2 separate regions of the Homo sapiens genome follow, and region 1 is linked to region 2. The links come from fine-mapping of genetic effects on gene expression. Tissue or cell type: fibroblasts. Region 2 holds a variant in brackets; the other region holds the start of a gene. All regions are shown on one strand. Distances are between the middles of the regions.

The links. PIP is the estimated chance that this variant, and not a neighbour inherited with it, causes the effect.
Region 1: CC2D1B starts here. The variant in region 2 is fine-mapped to the expression of CC2D1B in fibroblasts (GTEx, PIP 0.98).

Annotation. Positions count from the first base shown.
Region 1 is chr1:52,361,187-52,370,232 of GRCh38, reverse strand. CC2D1B (coiled-coil and C2 domain containing 1B) reads left to right here and starts at 4,028. Exons shown (of 25, transcript NM_001330585.2): 1 at 4,028-4,164; 2 at 5,599-5,681; 3 at 7,487-7,631; 4 at 8,617-8,720. The coding sequence starts at 5,613. It also overlaps the pseudogene PLA2G12AP1. RefSeq lists silencers at 1,427-1,506, 1,567-1,666, 3,649-4,278, 4,319-4,428 and an enhancer at 1,787-1,836.
Region 2 is chr1:52,644,550-52,655,036 of GRCh38, reverse strand. All of the region lies in intron 2 of SHISAL2A (shisa like 2A), which reads right to left. Among named protein-coding and RNA genes, the nearest start is that of SHISAL2A, 17 kb to the right of the region's middle. RefSeq lists an enhancer at 2,746-3,040 and a silencer at 2,746-3,040. The variant G/A (reference allele first, on the strand shown) is at 6,164.

The sequences.
Region 1 (9,046 bases), 280 kb after region 2:
CCACATGGCTGGGGAGCCCTCAGGAAACTTAAAATCATGGTGAAAGGCACCTCTTCACAGGGCAGCAGGAGAGAGAATGAGTGCCAGCAGGGGAAATGCCAGATGCTTATAAAACCATCAGATCTCGTGAGAACTCACTCCTATCACAAGAACAGCATGAAGGAAACCATGATTCAATTACCTCCCACAAGATGCCTCCCAGGACACATGGGGATTATGGGATTACTATTCAAGATGAGATTTGGGTGGGAACACAGAGCCAAACCATATCAGCCAGTGTGATGGTTAATAGAGCATGCAGACAGCCTATTGTGGGACTATATATATATATACACATATATATATATACACACATATATATACACACACACACACATATATATATACACACACACACACACATATATATATATATATATCCTATTAGTTCTGTTCCTCTAGAGAAACCTGACTAATGCAGCCAGCAATTCCATTCCTAAGTATATGCTCTAGAGAAATTCACATACGTACACCAAGAGTCATATACAAAAAGTTCATAGCACTCTATAATGGTAAGCCATTGGGAAAGTGACTTATTTTCATGCTATGGAATCATAACAGAAATGAAAATCAGCTAACTAGATACAGTATACATGTCAATTTGAGTGAAGCTTACAAACAGGGTTGAGTAGAAAAAGGTTGAAGAATTACACTGTATGTAACCAATGATATAATTTTTAAAAGCTGGCAAAAAAAATACTATGTATTGCTTAAGGATACCTACACAGAAATAGAAATGCTCAGGAATAATAAACACTAAATTTAGGATAATGGGTACATCTTTGGGAAAGGGAGGTGTTGCAATATGGGAGATGTACAGGTAGCTCCAACTATGTTTGTTTTTCTTTTTTCACAAAAATCAGATAGTTTTATGTTGTAAAAACATTAGTTATTTGTCAAAGGTTATGTTCTTCCGTCTTCATCTGTCACCAGCTGTCAGCATCTCCTTTAAATATCGGTTTTTTCTTCATAATGACACCTGCATGTGGCTCGTTGGCTGTCCAGATATGGTTTACAACCTAAATGTATAACACTGTCAAACAAGAGCTCCATTGTTGTTTCACATGCCTGAACATGCTAAGTTAGTCCTAGTGTTTTCTGTACTTCTCGGCAGATCTTGGAGAGGCAATACTGGAATTTCTCATCACAGTCATTCTTGCTTTTGCCACAGTTCTCATAGCACCTGTCGTGTTAGTTGCAACACTTTGTCAGGGAAGGGATACCAATGTTAAGATGAACGCCAAACAGTGGAGAGCCACATCCATTCGGTGGGGAGGGTTTATAACCATAACGTGGGAAAGGCTTAGATCCGTCACTGCATTTATACTGGCAGAGACCGTCCTCGCCTCCCAGGAGGTCCAAGGCGGCGTTCAGGTACGTGTCTATCTTATGAACGCCGTTCCGGATGGTCTTCAGGGTGGCCCTCCAGTCGGTGGTCTAGGCCTGCTCCAGGCACCTGATAACAGCGGCCATGAGGAGGAGCAGGAGGGTGAGCGCGGGGCGCGGGAGAAGGGCCAACCGCGCAGCGCCGGGCTCTACGGGTCCCCGAGCCGCGGCGGGGGGCGCGTCCCCAAAGAGCCCCCGGGAAGCGCTAGGCAGCGGCGCGGGCCCCGGGGTTGCAGCCGCCAGCTCCATAACCACGCCTCCTTCCCGGCTGGCAGGCAGGGCCTCGCTGGCTTTACGTGAACCGCCTCGGGGAGGCAGCGCGGTCGCGGGGACGCGCCCGCTCACCTGCTTTTTTTTTTCCCTTAAACTGGTAATAGATGTCCATGTAGTTAATTCACACAACAAGGAACTATTGAGTGCCTACTATGTACCATGCACTGCTGTAGACACGAGACACTTGGAGAAGCAATAAAAAAATTTCTCCTTCTGGAGCTTGCATTCTAGTAAATGTTAAATATTGTGTATCTTTGTTTATATCTTAAATGTTTCATTATAAAAATTTTTAAATAATTTTAAAAGGAATGAGAAATATGGATGTGAAATCTCAATTTAAATATGGTAATGGGCAGGGCATGGTGGCTCACGCCTGTAATCCCAGCACTTTGGGAGGCTGATGTGGGTTGATCCCCTGAGCTCAGGAGTTTGAGATCAGCCTGGGCACATAGCAAAAACATGTTTCTACAAAAAAAAAAAAAAAAATGCTGGGCATGGTGGCACGTGCCTGTGGTCCCAGCTACTCAAGAGGCTGAGGTGAGAGGATTGCTTGAGCCTGGGAGGTGCAGGTTGCAGTGAGTGGAGATCGCACCACTGCACTCTAGCCTGGGTGACAGAATGAGATCCTGTCTCAAAAAAAAAAAAAAGAAAAAAAGTAAGCAATCAGGAGATGGAAAAGCCCTTTGTCCAAGTAAACTGGGAGATCGCTAACTAGAAAACATAATTTAAAAGTTCAAGGCATAGGCAGGAGAGGAGATGGCAATGTTTTAGACAGAAGAAACTAATCCAGCAGTTTAACTTTAAAATACATTTTAAAACTTTTTTTCCTTTCTCTTGGGTTTCAAGATACAACCTTGAAGCAAACTGCAAAAGCCTTTTCCCTTAGCTGTAAAATAGACCCCATATCCCTCCCTTTCTCACTGTATATACTCCCTTCACATTTATCTTACTGTATGCTAGTATTTAATTATCTGCCTTCTGAGAAGTTCCAAGGGCTAATCTTGAGACAGACAAACCAAGCCTGGAGACACAGCTGCAAAATTCCAAAGATTACTTCAAGGTGGCTAGTCAACAGCGGGGCCATTGTGGAGATGAGACCAGCCCACGCTCCAGGTAGGCTGGGACCCAAGATAGCCACCAGAACAAGACACACAGACGTTGTACTCTGTACAATTCTTGCATGCTTCCCATATCAAATTTTCCTTTTAAGCCGTTCTCTTTCCCCCCAAAATCGAAGTGGTTACTTTAGATGGGAATCTGGCCACTTCCCCATTACTCCGCTCTCGGTTTTTTTGTTTGTTTTAGTTTGAGACAGGGTCTCACCTTGTCACCCGGGTTGGAGTGCAGTTGACAGCTCATTGCAGCTTGGACCTCCGGGGCCACAGCGATTCTCCTGCCTCGGCCTCTCAGTAGGTAGGACTACAGGCACGCACCACCACACCCGGCTAATATTTGTAATTTTTTGTAGAGACAGGGTTTCGCCATGTTGCCCAGGCTGGTCTCGGACTCCTGAGCTCAATCTCTTGTTAACTGGACTCTGCAAGCCGCAGGGAGAAACGTGCTTTCCTTAGAAAACTAGACTAGAGCATATTTACTGATGCTAAAGAGGTTGGTTTTGTATTTCCCTGGGCAAATAATTCTCTCTGAGCCTCCGTTTCTTCTAGAGATGATGTCCATCTTGCAGGATTGAGAACTGGTATAAGCTCCATTATGAAAAGTGACTGACACAAGCTTGGCAGAAAACGGGTATACTCCGTTTCTCTCCTTAATATCCTCCATGCCATTTGATTGCACAGCAGGGTAGGCGAGTGAGAACTTAGTGTTAGACTCTGTAAAGTATTTAAGATGTGCAGCGAGCTCTGCCTGTCTGAAGTTTTCAACGGACCGGAAAAGGATACTTTCAGGTGCTGAATTATTAAGAAACATATGGTGGGCCCCATTTCCATTTCCCCAGGCTTAAAGGACATGGACAAGCAGGTGAGCCCCGCCCCTGTCTCTCTTCCAGGGCGGAGCTTGGGTAGGCCCCGCCCTCTTGCTCGGTGGGGCGGGGCGAGGGCTGGAGGCGGGGTAGGTCCAGCGAGCGAGCGAGCGCCCAGCGCCTCGGGCTGAGTGAGGGAGGAGGTTCGGTGGAGAGGCTGCAAGTGGGCGAGGGCTGGGCGCAGCGACCTCATTGGAGCCGGCCGGTGGACGCCCCGGCGGAACCGCCCAGAGTTCCTGTCCTGCGCTACCTACCCGAACGCGCCTGCGCGCTGCGAACCCCGCCCCGGTGTCACCTGTTGGAGCCCCCCGCCCGCGTAGCCGTGCACATGCGCACTGCCGGCCGCCGGCCAGTGGGGTCACGTGTTGCGCGCGAGCCACCTCCCCTGCTGGCGCTTCCTGTCGCTACCGCTGCGGCCCAGGGCCCGCGGGAGCCCAGGGCGGTGCCGGGTGAGACAAGGCCGGGGTTTGGCTCGGATTCACCGCGAGGTATGCCGCGTCCCCGCCCCTCGGCGTGGGGAGTTCTGGGGACCGCGGGGGTAGATGGAGGCGGCGCGGGCGGGGCAGGGCGGCGCGTCCCGCAGCGCGGGAGTGGGGGTCCCGTGTCGCCTCCCCCTACGGACTCCGTTGCCCACCTTCCGTGAGGCCTGGCTGTGTCATCGGGGCCGCAGCCTTGGAGTGTCTGGCCTCGCTTTCACCTGAGCCGGAGTCACTCCCGAAATCTGACACTCAGAGTCCCCCGGAGCGCCCGCCAGCTCCTCCGCCCGCTCCCCGCCGCCTCCACGCCCGTCAGCTGGTCTCCCCGCCAGCGCTGTGGCGAGATGCGCCGGCTTCCTGCCTTTTCCCCCTACCTTCTGTGCACCTCCCCTTTGGTGCCAGAATGGGGTTTCTGAAACACCGATACGATCCCGCCACTTCTTTCCCAGCGCCCTCAGAATAATGCCCAAACGCTTTTCGGCTTAGAGGTTTTCATATTCTGCCGCTTGCTCACATTTCCACCTCGGCTTGTGCATTCAGGCCTCACCGCTTATGCCCCAGTCATACCAGGCCTCAGGTTCCATTGTACAGGCCAAGCTGCTCCCCACTTCAGAGCCGTCAAGTGTTCCCTCGTCTTGGAATCCTATTTCCCTCTTTCCCCCAACTTCTTTGCGTGACTCAGCTCAGGCGTCACCGCCTCGAAGGAGGAGCCTTTTCTCCCAGGGCTGAAGAAGGGGTCACCTCAGGGCACCCATGGCCCCTGGGGCAACCCCGTGTAGTCCACCTCCACCCTGTAAATGGTCATTGAAGGCTGAGACCGTCTTAGGTTCATTTCTGCGCTCCCAGTGCCCAGCGCAAGGTCTGACACAGGAGGTCCTGTGAATAACTGTGAGATCTTTATGGGAATCAGAATGCTGAGCCAGCTTTCTCCAGAGCTCAGCTGTGAGATGGAACTTTGATGACATGTCCTTGGATGATGAAAATGTTCTGTGTGTGTGCTGTCTGGTCATAGCCCCTCACCACATATGGCTGTTAAGCACTTGGAATGTGTCTGTTGTGGCTGATGGACTGGATTTTTAGCTTTATTTCATTTTAATTCATTGAAATTTAAAATTAAATAGCCAGCTGTGGCTTCCATAAGCACAGCTTTAGAGCCTTTCTGAATTCTACCCAGCCTTCCACCCACCCTGAACCTAGAGTACTTCCCTGAATGTGCTTTTTAAATTTGAGTCCGTTCAGAACATTCCTCAGTAAACCCATTAACAGGTGATCCCCATCCCTCCCATGGCCTGTGCTGCTTCAGTGCTTTAATTAAAGGTAACCCATACTTTGGTGTTCAGCATTGCCTTCTTTGGGAGTTTACTATCCACACCTTACCACGGGTAGCACTGTTGGGGGCGTGGCTTATGGGCTACTCCAGCCTGAATCTCTGTAACTCTTCCATAGGTATCTAGGCTGCCATGATGCCAGGGCCAAGACCTCGGAAGGGCCCTCAGGCCAGAGGCCAAGGGGTGGCCGCTGCCAAGCAGGTATGGAACTTAGCCTTCTAGGCTACTGGGTCGGTTTGGGGATGGGGGTCCCTAGACAACTTAGGCAAACTGGATCACATGTAGTTCCCCCATTAGTTCAGAGACTTGGAGCAGTGCCTCCTGGAGGTGGCAGAGCCCTTAGACACCCTCCTACTAGTCTCTTCCACATACAAGTGGGGAGAGGGTTCAGGAATCACCAAAGTTTAGGATGTTCTGATGGGACCTCAGTGCTCTCAAAGGTTCCTTAGATAGGGTCACAACTTTGCTTGTTAGCCAGGGATGCCAGGGCATGAGGGCTGTAGTCAGTGGGAGGACTTCACTGCCTAGGGACAGATGGCTGTGCCCCAAGTGGAAGAACAGGGGGGTCTCCTCTCCAATTTTCTTCCTTTATTTCTTCTGGGCCTACATCTTGAGACTTCTTAGTCCATTTTTACTGTCTTTAAAAAGGCAGGTAAGAAAGGAGGTGGGGTAAAGGGCATAGACTCAAGTCGCAAAGAGCTTGTTTTAAATTCTGATTGTCTCACAAGACTGTCTCAGTTTCATCTGAACATTGGGATAAAAACAGAATGTAAGCTGGGTGCCGTGGATCACGCCTGTAATCCCAGCACTTTGGGAGGCCGAGGTGGGTGGATCACCTGAGGTCAGGAGTTTGAGACCAGCCTGGCCAACATAGTGAAACCCCATCTCTACTAAAAATACAAAAATTAGCTGGGCGTGGTGGCATGTGCCTGTATTCCCAGCTTCTTGGGAGGCTGAGGCAGGAGAATCGCTTAGACCCGGGAGGCAGAGGTTGCAGTGAGCCAAGATAGTGCCACTGCACTCTAGCCTGGGCGACAGAGCCAGACTCTGTCTCAGAAAAAAAAAAAAAAAAGGATGTACCTCTACCTAGAGTAGTCATATTCATGGAAACAGAAGAATGGTGCTTACCAGAGGCTGGAAGGAGGGGAGGAAGGGGGGTTAATGTTTAATGGGTAGAAAGTTTGTTTCACAACATGAAAACAGTTCTGTGGATGGATGATGGCGATGGTAGCAGGATATTGTGAATGTCCTTATGCCATTGAACTCACCCTTAACAGTGGTTAAGATGGTAAATTTCATGTTGTATGTGTTTTACCAGAGTTTAAAAAAATAGGACCTTCTTTTTTTTTTTTTTTTTTGAGACGGAGTCTCGCTGTGTCGCCCAGGCTGGAGTGCAGTGGCGCCATCTTGGCTCACTGCAAGCTCCATCTCCCGGGTTCACGCCATTCTCCTGCCTCAGCCTCCCGAGTAGCTGGGACTACAGGCGCCCGCCACCGCGCCCGGCTAATTTTTTGCATTTTTTAGTAGAGACGGGGTTTCACCGTGTTAGCCAGGATGGTCTCCATCTCCTGACCTCGTGATCCACCCGCCTCGGCCTCCCAAAGTGCTGGGATTACAGGCGTGAGCCACCGCGCCTGGCCAAAAAATAGGACCTTCTTCTCAGAATTGTGAGAATTAACTGAGGTGGTTAAGATAATCACATAGAACGCTAAGAACAGTGCATGATGGCAGCTATTGCTGTTGGTTGTAATAATGGTAGTGTGTTTTAAATTCTGACTCACAAGACTGTCTCAGTTTCAGTGTGGTCTTACTGGGTTTTTTGTTGAGTCCCTAGGAAGGTAAGTGTCTCAAGGAGTAATGTTGCAGGCCTCAGTTTCTTTCTGCACATTGGGCCTCACAGACTGAAGGAGCCACTGATTGGGACTTGGAGAGCCCCAAGTCTGGCTCTGGAGCTGGACCCTACCCTGCTTGTTGTGTGGTTCCTAAGAGTCCTGCTCTGCTCTCAGATGGGGCTCTTTATGGAGTTTGGCCCTGAGGACATGCTGCTGGGCATGGATGAGGCTGAAGATGATGAGGACCTGGAGGCTGAGCTGCTGGCTCTCACAGGGGAAGCACAAACCACAGGCAAGAAGCCAGCACCCAAGGGGCAGGGTGAGTTTGGACACAGGGCTGGTCTTGGTGCTGGGACAAGATGGGCACAGGCTGGTGGTAGAGGGGTTCCCTTGCAGCTGGACGGAGCCAGCCAGATCCCCTGGTCCTTCCAATACCCATCTGCCGCACTCCCACCAAGAGGCGGCCTCGCCCTGCTTCCCCACCTTGTGTCATGGCCTGGGCTGGCCCCTCCCCATTGTGGACAAATGTGTTTCTCAGACTGACTCAGGTCCCCATCCTTAGCCCTAGCCACGGTATTGGTGTAGGGTAGGGGCCCAGTTAGCACAGACTGAACTGGGTACATAGGAAGTACATAGAAATTGTGTCCAGCGAGTTAAGTGGAATCTCCCTCCACAGCCCAGATGAGAACAGAGACTTCAGGCCTGGGAGGATCAGGAGGTCTAAATCGTCCTCTCTTTTCACCGGGAACCCTCAGAGAATCCCCCCACTCATCCCCCACCATCCTGTGTGTCCCTGAGTTGAGGATAATGGGAGGACCTAGGAAGGGGCTCACTGCTCCTGCCTTGGGGTGGCACAAGCCTAGGTTTGAATCCTAGCTCTGCCACTTAAGGATTGCAGTGATAGGAAAATTAATGTTGGAAGTTTCTCAGTTTATTCAATATATGAAAAGGGGATATTATCCATCTTGCAGATTTGTTTTGAAGCTCTGTTGGACTTTGAAAATCTTTACAGATGTGAAAGGTGTTGTTGGAGGTTGGAGAGAGTGGATGGCCATGTCTATGTCAGGCTACCGTAGGCAGAGGTGCAGAGAAAGGAGCAGCTTGTTGCTTGGTGGGGGGCCAAGGAAGGTTTCCCTGTTGAGGGTCTTTTGAACTGGGTCTTAAAGGAAGAGCAGTTTTCCAGGTGGGACTCTGCTGTGGGAGGGAAGAGGGATTTCTGCCTGGGTGGATCTACCAAGCCCCTCCTTTACTCATCCCTGAACTTATCTGAGTTGTGCTGACTTGTTGTGACCTTTTTCCCCCAGCCCCCCTGCCCATGGCCCACATCGAGAAGTTGGCGGCAGACTGTATGCGGGATGTGGAGGAGGAGGAGGAGGAGGAAGGGCTGGAGGAAGATGCAGAGCTGCTGGTGTGTCTGCCAGGCTGGTATCCCAGGGCTCTGAGGCAAGCTTGGGCCTGGTGGAGGAGAGGGCAGTGGAGAGGAGGCTGGGGGTGCCCCTGTATTCTCTGACTCTGAGTGAGTGCTTGCCCCTCCTGGCTGTACAGTGGGTGGCGTGTCTCTTTGACTTCTGGTCTAAGCTCTGCAGTTGGGGATTCTCAGATTTGGAGTAATTACTATTTTCAAGGCTATCCTCGGTCAGATTAAAGAAATGTTTTGGTGAAGGGGACTCAGGCACAGTGACTGACGTTAGGGAATATTGCTGAGAGAGAGGGTCCTTTACTCTCAGGTCCTGT
Region 2 (10,487 bases):
TTCTTTTTGTATTTTTAGTAGAGACGGGGTTTCGCCATGTCAGCCAGGCTTGTCTTGAACTCCTGACCTCAAGTGATCCACCCACCTGGGCCTCCCAAAGTGCTGGGATTACAGGCATGAGCCACCACACCCGACCAATCCTTATATATTTTGTCAAATATGTGAATATATTCTCCAGTCTGAGGCTTGCCTTTTCATCCTCTTAACAGGATCTTTCACAGCATTAAAATTTTGAACTTTGATGAATACTGGCTTATCTTTTTTAAAATGTATTGTGCTTTTGATGTCTTGTTTAAGAATTCTTTGCATAACCGCATGTCATGAAGATTTTTCCCTGTTTTCTTCTAAAAGTGTTAGAGTTTTTTGGTTTACATTTAGATCTTTTTTGAGATAATTTTTGTACAAGGTGTGAGATCTAGGTAAAGGTTTATTTTTTACTTATGGAAGTTTAGTTGTTTTAACACCATTTATTGAAAAGACTATCTTCCCCAGTTGAATTGATTTTGCACCTTCATCAAAAATCTGTTGGACAACCTTATGATGTCAGTCTACTTCTGGACCATATTTTGATCTATGCATGTGTCTGTCCCTCCTCCAATACCACACTATCCTCCTTACTGTTTATTATTGTTGCTATACAATAAGTCTTAAAATTGAGTAGTGTGATTTCCTCCAACTTCATTATTCTTTTTCAGTATTACTTTAGCTATTCTAGTTCCTTTGTCTCTCTATATATAAATTTGAGAATTAGCTTATCTATCTATCTATCTATCTGTCTATCTATCTATCTATCTATCTATCTATCTATCTATAAAACTGCCATTTTGGCCAGGCACAGTGGCTCACACTTGTAATCCCCACACTTTGAGAGGCCAAGAAGGGAGAATTGCTTGAGCCCAGGAGTTCAAAACCAGCCTGGGCAACATAGCAAGAACCCATCTCTACAAAAATAAAAAATTAACAGGGTGTGGTGATCCCTCTCCAATTGTGGGGGTCTGAGCAGCTGCCAGCCAAGCCTTCCAGAAGTTACAAGACCTTGGCTCAAGTCCTCATTCTGGTATTAAACGTTGTGCTACTTTGTGCCAAACCCTTCTCTTCTCTGGATCTCGGTTACTACTTCATAAAATGGAACAGAAAATACGACTGGCCTAATTTTCTGTGAATTCTTTTCCATTGAGCTCCTTGGGAGGCTGAGGTGGGAGGGTCACTTGAGCCCAGGAAGTTGAGGCTAGATTGTGCCATTGTACTCCAGCCTGGGTAACAGAGCAAGGCCCTGTCTCAAAAAAAAAGGGCGGGTTGCAATTTTTATGTTTACTATGTTGAGTTTTGCAATTCATGAACATAGTGTATTTCTCCATTTTAGGTCTTCTTTGATTTCCTTCATCAGCATTTTGTAGTTTTTTTTTTGTTTGGTTGGTTATTTTTAGAGACAGGGGTCTCCCTCTGTTGCCAGGTTGGAGTATAGTGACATGATCATAGCTTACAAGTGAGCCTTGAACTCTTGGGCTCAAGGGATCCTCCCACCTCAGCCACATGCCATCATGCCCGGCTAAGCATTTTGTAGTTTTCTTTTTTTTGAGACAGAGTCTTGCTCTGTCACCCAGACTAGAGTGCAGTGGTGTGATCTGGGCTCATGGCAGCCTCCGCCTCCTGGGCTAAAGCAATCCTCCCATCTCAGCCTCCCAGTAGCTGGGACTACAGGCACATGCCACCATACCCTGCTTTTTTTTTTTTTTTTTTTTTTTTTTTTGTAGAGACAGGAGTCTTGTCATGTTGCCCAGAATGATCTCGAACTCCTGGGCTCAAGCGATCCTCCAGTCTTGGCCTCCCAAAGTGGAGGGATTTTGTAGTTTTTAACATACAGAACCTGTACATGTTTTGTTAAATTTTACCTAAGTATTTCATTTATTTTAGAGTAACTGTAAATGGTATTATTGTGTTTTTAGTTTGGGTTTCTAATTTTTTGTTAGTAGTATATATAAATACAATTGATGTTTGGTTTTGACTTTACTGTGACCTTGCTAAACAAACTTAGTTCTTTTTTTTTTTTTTTTTTTTTTTTTTTTTTTTTGAGACAGAGTCTCACTCTGTCACCCAGGCTGGAGTGCAGTGGCGCGATCTCTGTTCACTTCAAGCTCTCCCTCCAGGGTTCATGCCATTCTCCTGCCTCAGCCTCCCGAGTAGCTGGGATTACAGGTGCCCGCCACCAAGCCCGGCTAATTTTGTTGTATTTTTAGTAGAGATGGGGTTTCACCGTGTTAGCCAGGATGGTTTCAATCTCCTGACCTCATGATCCACCCTCCTGGGCCTCCCAAAGTGCTGGGATTACAGGTGTGAGCCACTGCGCCCGGCCCAAACACACTTTGTTCTAACAGGTTATTTTGTGCACGTTTTATAGACTCCTTGGGATTCTTTGTTATTTAAGCTTTCATTTTAAGGCATTCCAACTTGTACAGGGATTTACTTCAACCTTCTCTTCAATACAAGAATCCCCTTAGCTGAATCCCATATTTAGCCTTTTCCTGATTACCTTCCATGGATAGAGGTGCTTTTTTAAAAAACAAAACAAAACAATTTAACAAAACAAAAAAACTTGTTTGTTAAAAAACAAAACAAATTTGTAAAGGATTACGAATTTGTGAGTGAAATATGGCCCAGAGTGATGGAGTTCTTTTTGCAGTATTTCAGGTATACTCTAAATAAGTTCTACCTTTATTGACTCAACATCCATCTCCCTATGGCTTTCCCCACTGATTTCAGCTCTGTTCTCTCGATTCTCATAAAAATGTCTGATCCTCTTGTCCCAGAACAACCTTGCAGAGATCTGAGGCCCTAGGCTGTGAGCCCAGAGTCTCCTCTGTTCAAGGCCAACTATCCCCAGCTCTTTACCTAATCCTCACATGACCTGGTTCCCAGATCTGAAGTAGTCACCTGCCTCTGATCATCTGATTGGTCAAAGTCCATCTCACATTATGGGGCTCTGAGCAACTGGCCAGCCAGGGCTCTGGGGAATCCCTTGGGCTTCCAGGAGTTACAAGACCTTGGCTCAAGTCCTCATTCTGATATTAAATCATTGTGCTACTTTGTGCCAAACCCTTCACCTCTCTAGATCTGTTACTACTTCATAAAATGGTGTAGAAAATACAACTGGCCTAATTTTTCTACTTCTTTCCCTTTGAACTCCAAGTTCTGAAGGATTCTGTCTACATAATAGACTGCATTTATTAAGTACTAATTTTTTCCATTCTGTATTAATCAAAGAGCTCTGATCAGCAGGAGAGCACCTATGTTAATTACCCCCTGGAACTGATATAATTCTAGCTCAAAGAGAAGAAACTTGGTCCCTGTAAAACCTTTGCAATATTGTAGCCAGCTGAGGCAGGAGAACTGCTTGGACCTGGGAGGCAGAGGGTGCAGTGAGCCGAGATGGCAACATTGCACTCCAGCCTGGGCAAGAGGGTGAGACTCCATCTCAAAAAAAAAGAAAACAAAAATTGTTGGGCCGGGCACAGTGGCTCACACCTGCAATCCCAGCACTTTGGGAGGCTGAGGCGGGTGGATCACGAGGTCAGGAGTTCAAGACCAGCCTCTGGCCAAGATGGTGAAACCCCGTCTCTACTAAAAATACAAATATTAGCCAGGCGTGATGGCAGGGGCCTGTAATCCCAGCTACTTGGGAGGCTGAGGCAGAGAATTGCTTGAACCTGGGAGGCGCAGGTTGCAGTGAGCAGAGATCACACCACTGCACTCTAGCCTGGGCAACAGAGCGAGACTCCGTCTCAAAAAAAACAAAAAACAAAAAACCTTTGCAATATTGGAGATTGCTCAAGAATCCCCACTGCTATGTTTGGGGACCCTCAGGAAATTGGAAACCAAAGTTGGGAACCTACAGAGTAGACGATAAAAAGTTATTTCTGAGATGTGATGGCTGGTGAGTTCTATCCAACTGAAAGTTAATATAGATCATCACTCCTTTGCTTCCAGACCTTATACTCTGTTAATGTGACCTGAGGTTCCACTCACTTTTTTTTTTAGCAATTACATTACATTTTTGGCTTATGTGGGAAGCTGTTAAAAAAAAAAAAAAGGTTAGGCCAGGCGTGGTGGCTCATGCCTGTAATTCCAGCACTTTGGGAGGCTGAGACGGGTGGATCACCTGGGGTCAGGAGTTCAAGACCAGCCTGGCTAACACAGTGAAACCCCGTTTCTATTAAAAATACAAAAATTAGCCGGGTGTGGTGGCAGGTGCCTGTAGCCTCAGCTACATGAGAGGCTGAGGCAGGAGAATTGCTTGAACCCGGGAGGCGAAGGTTGCAGTGAGCCAAGATCACACCACTGCACTCCAGCCTGGGTAACAGAGGGAGATTCTGTCTCAAAAAAAAAAAAAAAAAAAGGGTTTTAAAAAAAAGAAAATGGTATGTTTGAGATTGCCAACATGTAAAAATTGAAGCGCCTAATAATAATGAAAATGACAGCCACTAATTGTTAAAAGCCTACTATGTGTTTGAGACTAATTAAATACCAGTAAGCATCATTTCTAGTTTTTGCAACAACTTTCTTAGTAGCTATGAGGGTACACATTTTAGAGTAAATTGAGGCCGAGAGAAAAATGACTTGCTTAAGGCCACACACTGACAGCAGCAAGGCCAAGATTAGAACTAGGTTTTCTGGCATCTCTGCCCAGCGCTGTGCCTTCCCTCCTTTCTCCAAGGACCTCCGTGGCCAGTCCCCCATTACCTGGGGTTCTCAACCCTGAACATGGGCCTAGCCTGTGGTGACCAGCTTGGAAAGGAGTTCTCAGGTTTTCCCCCTGCTTGGAGGAGTCAAAACAAACTCATCACTGACTGAAGCATGTTTGGTTCCTCGGCGTTACCTCTCAAGTATGGTTAATTAAAAAGCAGTGGGCTCTGGGGTGACATGACTGAGCCTTCTGTGGAAGGTGGGAGGGGCTGATGAAAGTCATTCTGCAGTATAGGGGCAGCTGCTGCAGGGAAAGGTCTCTGGCTGGGAGGCAAAGGCTTGGCCACCAATTGGCTGGGTGACCTTAGGCACATGACTGCCTCTCTCTGGGCCTCAGCTGCCCCATCTATACAGTGAGAGCATCAGACTTTATTTCTAGGAGCTTTTGAGTTCTAGTTGATGAGAATGGCTGACTAATGACCTCTTCACCAACAACTTTCAGAAAAGGATAAGAATTGGACTCCTTAATTTTCCCCCCAATGTTTTAGTATCTTATTAAATGTACCTAGATATCACCTCTACACTCACCTCACTGACCTCATCTGCAAAATGGGAGTTGATAATAATCACCAGGCAGAGTAGTTGAGCAGGTTAAAGGGGATGATGTGTTTGAAGTCCTTAGCACAGTGCCCAGCTCAACAGTAGGAACTCACTTTTCTGATCTAGCCAGTTCCTCACAAAGTACCAGAATAAGAAAGTTATGGTCTTCATTGCCATCCCAAGTTTGGGGATGGGATGGGTGTGACGGTGATGGGACAGAGTACAGAATGCCTGGGCAGGGAAAGAAGCCTATTTCAGAAACTGCTTTTCCATTTACACTCTGCTCTTGCCAAGGCACTCCCCACCCCACCCTTGCCTCCATACTCAGAGCTAAGGAACCCAAGGGACAGTGCAATCATAGGCTTTAGAGTCTGGGAGATCTGGGTTGACATCGCAGTGACACATGCTCACTGGCTATGTGGACTTAGTTCATTTCCCTTGGCTGAGCCTTGGTTTCCTCTGCTATAAAATGGGGGTAAAGACCTCTCTCCATGTCCTATTGAAGCGCAAGAGAGCAAACAGAAATGAAAGTCTATCAACAGTAAAGCTCTGATGAATGTAAGAGAGTGGGCCTGTAACCATCTCAGATGCAGAAGGAAGCTCCTGGGTTGATGCTTTGGGTGCAGAGGGAAGGAGAGGCCAACACTTAATGAAGAAGAAGGGTAGGAACTAAGAGCTGAGTTTGAGCAAAAAGCAGAGAGAGCCTAAAGCTGTTATTTAGTAAAAGGTCAGGCAATGCACTTTTCTTCTTAAAAATAAGAAACAAAAATCAAGAGGACATGCTGTCTCAAATTCTCGTGACTGAATAATTCAGCTGGTGGCTGAGCAGTGAAAAGCAGGAGGATGGTTTCCATTCACAGGGCCGAGGGATGAACTGTATTCC[G/A]CTTGAGCCAGAAAAGTAGGAATTAGGGGATGGGTAGGGTGGGGTGAGACTAGGAGCACAGAGCACAAGCCAGAACATCCCACAGTCCTGCTCTAGGAGGATGGAAAGAGCAGGACTTTGGAGGCAGAAAGACACGTGTTTGATTTCCAGCTCCACAATCACAAGCTATGTATGACCCTTGTGCAAATCATCTAAGCTCTCTGAGACCTGATTTTTGCATCTGTAAACTGGGTTATAATGAGACCTACCTCACTGGGATAGCTGGAAAGATTAGAGGAGATGGTGTGTGTGAAATTTCAAACAGTGTCTGGCACATTGTAGGGATGCCCCTTTCACAGCAACAGGGATAAGGAGAGGAAGGAGGGTGAAGGGGAGAGTTGGCTCTGTCACTCATTCGGTGACTTTGGGTCTCAGTTTCCTCATCTGTAAAATGAAAGTAATAGCATGATCTATACCCTACCCAGTTACCATAAAGAGCAAATAATATGGTACATTTAGAGCTAGTTCATTCCTTTTGCCTATATTGTATCAATATTTAATTATTCTATTATACCACAGTTTATGATCCATTCCTCTACCTATGGACATTTAGTTTCCAATATGACAGGTTCTTAAGATGTCTGTCTTTACAAAGCCTCTCCTAATGCAACTATTTAAGGCAGCTAATTAGAAGTAGAATTACTGAGTAACAGGGTATATATATAAAACTAACAATTATATAATATTGATAATTAATTATGTAATAATGAAATATATTATATATAATTATATATTAGATATGTTAATATATAATTATATGATATATTAATATATAATTATATATATTATTTAAATAGATATTGCCAAAATTCTCTGTAAAGTGGTCGTACCAATGCATACTCTTACCAGCAGTATATGAGAGTACCTGCTTCCCCCATCCCAACCTTCCAACCTTCTCACTTTTAATATGATACATTTTTGGGCTTTTGCCAATTTGCCAATGTAATTTTTTTTTTTTAATAAAGATTTTTCTTTTTTTCTTTTTTTTTTTGAGACAGGGTCTTGATCTGTCGCCCAGGCTGGAGTGCAGTGGCCGATCCTGGCTCACTGCAGTCTCCACCTCCTGGCCTCAAGCAATCCTCCCACTTTAGCTCCCCAGGTAGCTGGATCTACAGGCATGTGCCACTATGTCTGGCTAATTTTTGTATTTTTTGTAGGGATGGGTTTCACCATGTTGGCCAGGCTGGTCTCGAACTTCTGACCTCAAGTGATCTGCCCGCCTCCACCTCCCTAAGTGCTGAGATTATAGGTGTGAGCCACAGTGCCTGGCCTGGATGTATCATTTTTGAATTGCATTCCCCTGATTATTAGTAATGTTGAGCATCTTTTCCTGTGCATTGGGCATTTGCATTTCTTTTTTAACAAATTACATTTTTCTTATCTTTTAAGGTGTACTTATATCAATACTGCCTTGTTTTATATACAGTTGATTCTCATTATTCACGGTAGTTATATTCTACAAAGTCACAGCAAACACTAAATTAACAAATACTGAATTATTGCTCCTAGGGGAAATACAAGGTTATGTTCCTGTGAGCCTCTGGTCACATTTTTGTCAACTGATCAATATGTAACTTTGTTTTTCTATGTGTGTTTCTGTTTAAAGTGACCTTATTTAATATGTTATTGATTCATTAACATTGAACTCATGGCCAACAGCACTATAACCTAAAACTCATGTCTCTAAAACAAACAAAAACAGGCCAGGTACAGTGGCTCACACCTGTAATCCCAGCACTTTGGGAGGCCAAGGCAGGCATATCACCTAAGTTCAGTAATTCAAGACCAGCCTGGCCAATATAACGAAACTCTGTGTCTACTAAAAATACAAAAAAAAATTAGCTGGGCATGATGTTGGGTGCCTGTAGTCTCAGCTACTTGAGAGGCTGAGGCAGGAGAATTGCTTGAACCTGGGAGACGGAAGTGGCAGTGAGCTGAGATCGCACCACCGCACTCTAGCCTGGGCGACAGAGCAAGACTCCATCTCAAAAAATGAAAATAAAAATAAACCAAAACAAAACAGTGAAATCACCCATTAAAAATAAAAAAATACAAAAACCATGGCACTAAATAGACTGAGAAAAAGACACTTGCTTGTACCATGAGAGCTGCAAAGAGAAGGCAGAGCATACCTTATTCAATATCACCTAGGATACATGTGTAAATCAAATTTTTTGCTACTCTGTGTGTGCCCACATTTACAAATGACCTCAGAATTGCCTTGAGTATTGATGCTGACGTTACAAGTAAATTTTAGCAAGTAGGGAAATTTGCAAATACAGAATTGGAGAATATGAGGACTAATTGTGTGTGTGTGTGTGTGTGTGTGTGTGTGTGTGTGTATAGATATTTAATGTAATATAATATCTTTGCAGCCCATCATTTGTTTTTTAACTTCACATACAGTGTCATATTATTTGTACTTGATGTAGGGACATTTGCCAATCTTTTCCTTTATTTTTTAGAAAATTATACATTTTATACAAATTCCTATATTTTTATTAGTCTGTTTCTGGACTCTTTCTATTCTAGGTTTTTCAACTTTAGTACTCTATTCTCTACTCTAGGGTTTCTCAACTGGTACTATTGACATTTTGGGCCAGATAATTCTTTGTTGTGAGGTACTGTCCTCTTTATTGTAGGCTGTTAAACAGCATCCCTGGCCTCTACCAATAGTTATCAATAGTATCCCTTCCCCGAATGTGACAACCAAAAATGTTTACATACATTGCCAATTGTCCTAGGGGAACAAATTTGTACTCAGTTTAAAACCACTGCATTGCCCAATTCTATTTGTCAATTTCTGTGCCAATATCACAAAACTTATATTTTTAAACAGAAATCCTTTATTTTAAAAAATGTCCTGCTGCCTGATAGAGCAAGTCCCTCCTCTTCTTTGTTTTCCAAAATTGTGTTGTTCATTCTTGCACCTGTATGCCTCTAGATTAACTTTAGAATTAATTTGACAAATTCCATGAAACATTTTTATTTATTTTTATGTATAGGTTAATTTAGGAAGAACTGGCATTTCTATGATATTGAGCCTTTCTATCCACATATGTGCCATATCTCCCATATAGTCAGGTTCTTTTATGTCTTTCATTGACCTCTATAAAAGTTGAAACCAGCTGGGTGTGGTGGCTCACACCTGTAATCCCAGCACTTTGGGAGGCCAAGGCAGGTGGATTGCTTGAGGCCAGGAGTTTGAGACTAGCCTGAGCAGGACGGTGAAACTCCATCTCTACTAAAAATACAAAAAATTAGCCAGGTGTGGTGCTACGCACCTGTAGTCCTGCTATTCAGGAGAATGAGGTGGGAGAATCACCTGAGCCCCGGAGTGCAAGGCTGCAGTGAGCCATGATTACGCCACTGCATTCCAGCCTGGGCAACTGGAGTGAGACCTTGTCTCAAACAAAACAAAACAAAACAAAACAAAACGTTGAAGCCTCAGTTGTCTCTGGTCTCCACCAGGCTGGTTCTATGTGCAGACGTTTTTCTTTTCCCCTGCCACTGCCTCTCAGGTCTTTCTCACTCCAAGAGGAGCCAGCTGAATCCTTCCACCCTCAAAAGTGACCCCTCCTGCTTTTTGCTGCTCAGTCACAGCTGGATTATTCACAGTCATCAGGATCTGAGAAGGGTTCTTGTGCTGTTGCTTGTTGTATTTTTATTGTTAACTTGGAAAATTCGTGTTTACAAATGATGGCATTCAGCCCTCTCTTTCTCTGAGACTTAGCTACTACCCACCTTGCCCCTTCTACCTCCCCGATGCCTCCTGTCACCCTTACTTCTTCTTCTTCTTCTTTTTTTTTTTTTTTTTGGAGACAGAGTCTTGCTCTGTTGCCCAGGCTGGAGTGCAGTGGCGCAATTTCTGCTCACTGCAAGCTCCGCCTCCCGGGTTCACGCCATTCTCCTGCCTCAGCCTCCTGAGTAGCTGGGACTACAGGCGCCCACCACCAAGCCCAGCTAATTTTTTGTATTTTTAGTAGAGACATGTTTTCACCGCATTAGCCAGGATGGTCTCGATCTCCTGATCTTGTGATCCGCCCGCCCTGGCCTCCCAAAGTGCTGGGATTACAGGCATGAGCCACTGCACCCGGCCCCACTTTTTTCTGAGACACGGTCTTGCTCTGTCTCCCAGGCTGGAGTGCAATGGCACAATCTTGGCTTGCTGCAACCTCCGCCTCCCGGGTTCAAGCGATTCTCCTGCCTCAGCCTCCCGAGTAGCTGGGATTACAGGTGCCTGCCACCACACCCAGCTAATTTTGTATTTTTAGTAGAGACAGGG